Regions from separate parts of the Homo sapiens genome. Here region 1 is linked to region 2. The links come from fine-mapping of genetic effects on gene expression. A gene starts in region 2. The other region holds a variant in brackets. All regions are shown on one strand. Distances are from middle to middle.

Region 1 (2,899 bases), 63 kb after region 2:
GCCCTGCGGTCTCTTCAGGAGCTCCCCGAGAGGGGCACTTGGCCACTGTTGGAGCTGAGAGGGGCCTGGCCCAGCTCACCCGCCTCTCCTGCTTCTCACCCAGCCCCTGCTGCTGAGAGCTCTGGCAGCCTCCGTGTGCACAGCAGGCCTGGGCTCAGTCACAGGTAGCTCTTCTGTCTGCTCCACGGTGGCTCTCCTCAGGGCCTTGGCTCTCATGTGAGGCTTCCAGCTGCTGCTCACACTCAGAGCTTTGCATGACCAGCAACACACAGGCAGATAAGAGCATTGGGTCTAGGGCGAGAAAATCCTGGGTTCAAGATCAGGCTCTGCCATTTACCAGCTATGTGGCCTCAGGCAGGTTGAACTCTTTGAGCCGCAGTTATCTCATCTGTAAATTGGGGATAATAACACTTAATGGTACTTATCTCATGGGGTTGTCATGAGGATCAAATGAGATGATGTGTGTGTAAACACCTTACAGAGGGCTCCACTAATGGAAGGCATTATTATTGCTGTTTCCATACCACACGACACTCACCCAAGAATGGAAGTTCATGTTCTGACTGTCAATGACGTGTCCAGCATTCCTCCTGTGCTCATTTCATAACTATTCGTTGAGCCTCCTTGGTGCCAGGCACTGTTCTAGACTCTTGGGCCATAAAAATCAATAAAACACAAGATCCCTGCCTCCTTACGGCTGACCTTCTAGGGGAGAGACTTTCACATACCCCAATCTACTTAGCACACATTCCAACCTCTCTCTGGCATCTGCAAACTCAAGTCTGCAAGGTGAAGCAACATCCTAAGCTGCTAGGAACTCTCTCCATAAGTACTCATCCAGATGGCCTGGTGATACGGACAGGAGACAGGGAAATACTGGGTAGAAGAGGGTGGCTCCTGGCAAAGGCCCCACCCTCAAGCCTGAAGACCCACGGCCCTAAATGAGGACAGGCATTCCTGTTTTTGAGCGGAAAAAGTTGCCTTTTGGCCTGCCACACCCCCTATCCTGCACCCATATAAACCCTGAACCCCAGGCTTCAGAAACAGACGAGCAAGCCAGCAGACCAGCAGACGGACAGTGGAACGATGCAGTAGAGAAAGAGAGAGGAGGAGGAACATCTGAACATGGAGAGGAGTTTGACTGGGGACGGTCAGAGAGGAGTCCGGCTGCTGGGCTCCTGACTCCAGGGGAAGATCACCTTCCTACTCCATACCCCCCTTCTGGCTCCTCATCCGTCCCACTGAAAGCTACCTCTACCATTCAATAAAACCTCGCATTCATCCTTCAAGCCCATGTGTGACCCAGTTTTTCCGGGATGCTGGATAAGAGCTTGTGATACAGAGAGCTGTCACACTGGCCCTCTGCCCTTGCGAAAAGGCAGAGGGTCCAT[T/C]GAGCTGGTTAACACATGCTGTCTGCGGACAGCAAAGCTGAAAGAGCTTTGTAACACTGGGGTTGCAGGCACCCACCTTTAGACACTACAGTAGGGCCAGAGCCCAAATGGCTCACCCTGGCCTCTGCACCTTCCCATCTGCATGCTCCACCTCCTGAGAGGGATTTGAGCAGCAGGGGTGACCGAAAAGGCAAGCGGCACATCCTGAGGGGGATCGGGGACCTCTCCTGTTTCACTGCAGAAGTCCTTTCGTGGCAAAACAAGGTCATGTTGAGACAACACTCAGAGCATTGTCGTGAAAAGGGAGCACAATCATTAAGAGTAGTTGCCCATTTTACAGATGAGGAAATTGGGGCCCAGAAAAGTTTAACTGCCTTGCCCTAGGTTATGCTGCTGCTCAGTAACAAAATAACTTAGTCAACAAATATTTGCTGAGCCCCTATTTTGTGCCAGCCACTGCTTTGGGCACTGGGGCACAGTCAGTGCCTTAGTGGAGCTTGCATTCTCTAAAGGGGTGACTTAAAATAAATATGTAAACAGGTGAGCTCATTTCAGACATGATGAGTGCTAGGCGGAAAATCATACAAGATAATGGGAGGGACAGTGACTTAGGAATGGGGTAGTTGGGGAAGGCCTCCGGGGAGGTGACACTGAAGTCAAGGAACCAAGCAGAGGACACTTCCGGTGGAAGTTATCCTAAATGGTGACCCAGATAAGAGACTCAAAGGATTCCCTACAGCTCACTTAAAAGGCAAAGGAGAAAATGTGGCTGTGAGTCCTCCTAGGGAGAGCAGGGGTTTCTGAGCTGTGGCCTGAGGAGCCAGGTGGCCCTCCTTGTAAAACAGAGCTCAGGGCATCTGGGGATCCTTTTGTTTTGTTTTCTAATAGACTTTATTTTTTAGGTTCATAGCAAATTTGAAAACAAAGTATAGAGAGTCCCCATATACCCCTGCCCCTACATGTGTAGTACATTCATTAAATCAAGAACCCACATGGATGCATCATCACCCAAAGTCTATATTTACATTGGGGTTCACTCTTGGTGTTGATGTCCTATGAGTTCTAACCGAAGTGTGATGACTTTATCCACTGTCACAGCATCTTAGAGTAGTTTCACGGCCCTAAAAATCCTCTGTGCTCCGCCTGTTCATCCCTCCCTCCCCACAACCCCTGGCACCCACTGGTCTTTTTGCTGTCTCCGTAGTCTTGCCTTTCCCAGAGTGTCATATAGTTGGAATCATACAGTATGCACCCTGTTCATACTGGCTTCTTCCACTTAATAATATACATTTAAGTTTTCTCCATGTCTTTTCATGGCTTGGCAGCACATTTCTTTTTAGCGTTGAATGAAATTTGCATTTTCTGGATGTAGGGGCTTGATATGGTTTGGCTCTGTGTCCCCACCCAAATCTCATCTTGAATGATACGCCTGTAACTCCCACGTGTTGTGGGAGGGACCCGGTGGGAGATCATTGAATCATGGGGGCGCTTTCTCTCATACTTTCCTT
Region 2 (2,899 bases):
AGGAGTCTGGCTGGCCTCGCCTCGTCGCGCACGCGCGCGCGTCCTTGGGGATAGCGTTCAGGACAGAATGTGTTTTATAGCTGTAAACAATGACCCCGAGTATTGTTTGGGATTACCGTATCTTGGGGCCCTTGGGGCGGCCAGATGCCGCCAGCCGTCCCGGAAATGCCAGCGCTTTATATAGAGCCCCAGGAAAGCTTCGCGTTCCCGGCTCTATTTTTCTCTGCTACCAACACCCCCACTTTGCAGATAAGGAAACTGAGGACAGAAGTTGTGTGACGGTGCACAGCGAGTTGTCAGCAATGGACTCTCAACACCTCTTAACATTGGGTCCTCATAAGGACCCTGTGGGGTACAGATGGCTGGCGCTACTTAAGAATTGGGTAAACTGAGGCTAACACAGACCCTGGACCAAAACCTAAGTTCCCTGACTTCCGCTACAGTACTTCTCCATTCACACACACCATCATCTCAGCGGAAGGATTGGAGCTCCAGAGCAGAGAAGGGCCTAAGGTCATGTCTCCAAACTCCTTCACTTTATAGGAGGAAACTGAGGCCCAGAGAGGTTAAGGAATTCGTCCAAGATCTCACAGCTCGTAAATAGCGTAGCCGGGCGTTCCTGCTCTAAGGTCTGTGCTCTGTACCCTGCGCCGCGCCCCTCCCAGCCCCGCCCAGCGAGGGAGGAGGACCCAAATGTCCGGCAACCCGCGCCCTGAACTTCGCTCCAAAACAGCTGAAGACGACAACGTTGGGGCACACCCTCTCGCTGGCTTTTTTTTTTTTTTTTTAATTCGTAACAGTCTGGAGTTTGCTTATAAACGCCCGATTACTCTTATTAGATGCGTCCTAATTGCCCGGCGTATAGGGCGGCCGGAATGTCTTGACTGGTTAATTTCATCTTCAAGGCTACTCCTAACGAATTAACTGTAGGACCGAAAACATGAAAAACAAAAAACAAAAAGGGAACCGGTAGGCAGACCGCCACGGAGGGAAAAATAGGCAGGCCAGCCCCGCCCGGCGCCGTGCCCCGCCAACACCCGGCCGCAGGGCGGCGCGGGCACCCTGCGCGCCCGGGGCGCCCGCTGCACTCGGCGGCGCCGCGGAGGGCGCCTACGACCGCGCGCAGCCGCGCCCTCCCTGCGAGCGGCTCTGCGCGCCCGGCTCCCGGCCTCCCGGTGGCGCCGCACCGAACCGCCCGTCTCGCCGTCAGGGCTGTGATTATTTTCTAAAATCCGGAGGCGAGACCCGCGCGGCCGCTCTCGGGGCCCCGCCCCGAGCCCCTTCCCAGGGCGGGGGAGAGGCCGCAGCGCACTCGGGAGCGGGCGAGGGAATCCCTCTCCCTCCACGTCACCCGAAAGCGAGGAAACCCGCACTCGCGTCCTCTAACGCAAATGACCATCTTTGGCAACGTGCGCCAATGGAACAGACCAAGGGCGCTGGGCCCGGGGGGTGAGCGGGGGACTGGGGAGGGCCGGGGCTGCCTCGGCGCCTCCGAACCGTGCGTGGCGCCCGCTCCCGCCCGTGCCACCGCCTGGCTTCCTCGCGCGGGGTGCGCGGTTGGCGTCAGCGCGGCCGGGAGCCGGGGCTGGGAGGGGAGAGCTGCGCCCGCCTCCTCCCCTCCCGCGCCTCTTCCTCCTCCGCGGCCTCCTCCCCCCGCCTCCTCGTGCGCTCCTCCCTGCAAGGTGGAGTCTGGGGTTGACGTGAGTGAATCCACATGGTACAGGGCTGGAGAATAAAGAGTGTGAGTTGAACTCGTGCCATTGTAGTGACTCATCTCGGGCAGAGCGCTAGGGCTCCGAGCGAACCAGCGAGCGAGCGAACGAGCGGCGCTCGGCGGGGACAGAAAGAGGGAGAGAGAGAGAGAGAGAGAGGGAGAGGCGCGGCCGGGCGAGGCGGGCCCGTCCGGGAGCGGGCTCCGGGGAAGGGGTGCGGGTCTGGGCGCCGGAGCGGGGAGCGGGGCCGCGTCCCTCTCAGCGCCAGCTCTACTTGAGCCCCACGAGCCGCTGTCCCCCTGGCGCGCTCGGGGCCGCGGGACGGGCGCACGCCGCCTTCTCCTAGTCAAGTATCCGAGCCGCCCCGAAACTCGGGCGGCGAGTCGGCCACGGGAAGTTTATTCTCCGGCTCCTTTTCTAAAAGGAAGAAACAGAAGTTTCTCCCAGCGGACAGCTTTTCTTTCCGCCTTTTTGGCCCTGTCTGAAATCGGGGGTCCCCAGGGCTGGCAGGCCAGGCTCGCTGGGCTCCTAATCTTTTTTTTAATTTCCAATTTTTGATTGGGCCGTGGGTCCCCGCTGAGCTCCGGCTGCGCGCGGGGGCGGGAGGGCGCGCGCAGGGGAGGGACCGAGAGACGCGCCGACTTTTTAGAGGGAGGGATCGGGTGGACAACTGGTCCCGCGGCGCTCGCAGAGCCGGAAAGAAGTGCTGTAAGGGACGCTCGGGGGACGCTGTTCCTGAGGTGTCGCCGCCTCCCTGTCCTCGCCCTCCGCGGTGGGGGAGAAACCCAGGAGCGAAGCCCAGAGCCCGCGGCGCGGCCGGCGGACGAACGAGCGCGCAGCAGCCGGTGCGCGGCCGCGGCGAGGGCGGGGGAAGAAAAACACCCTGTTTCCTCTCCGGCCCCCACCGCGGATCATGTACCAGGATTATCCCGGGAACTTTGACACCTCGTCCCGGGGCAGCAGCGGCTCTCCTGCGCACGCCGAGTCCTACTCCAGCGGCGGCGGCGGCCAGCAGGTAGGTGCGGGCCCCGGTGCACCTGGCGGCGCGGGCGGACCCCTGCCCTCTTCTCGCCGCCACTGCCTCTTTTGCTTTCTTTTCTTTTTCTTGGCGAGAAAATACCTACGGGCCACCGTTGTAAGTTCTGGATTTTCGTCCTCCCCTTCCCCCCCACCCCCTTTTAAACTAG

What was found. PIP is the estimated chance that this variant, and not a neighbour inherited with it, causes the effect.
Region 1: its variant is fine-mapped to the expression of FOSL2 in whole blood (INTERVAL, PIP above 0.99).

The regions. Positions count from the first base shown.
Region 1 is chr2:28,454,152-28,457,050 of GRCh38, forward strand. No RefSeq gene overlaps it. Among named protein-coding and RNA genes, the nearest start is that of PLB1, 40 kb to the right of the region's middle. The variant T/C (reference allele first, on the strand shown) is at 1,392.
Region 2 is chr2:28,391,096-28,393,994 of GRCh38, forward strand. FOSL2 (FOS like 2, AP-1 transcription factor subunit) reads left to right here and starts at 1,763. Exons shown (of 4, transcript NM_005253.4): 1 at 1,763-2,727. The coding sequence starts at 2,626. The region is part of intron 1 of FOSL2-AS1 (FOSL2 antisense RNA 1); the gene reads right to left. RefSeq lists silencers at 980-2,099, 2,586-2,762 and enhancers at 1,793-2,724, 2,880-2,899.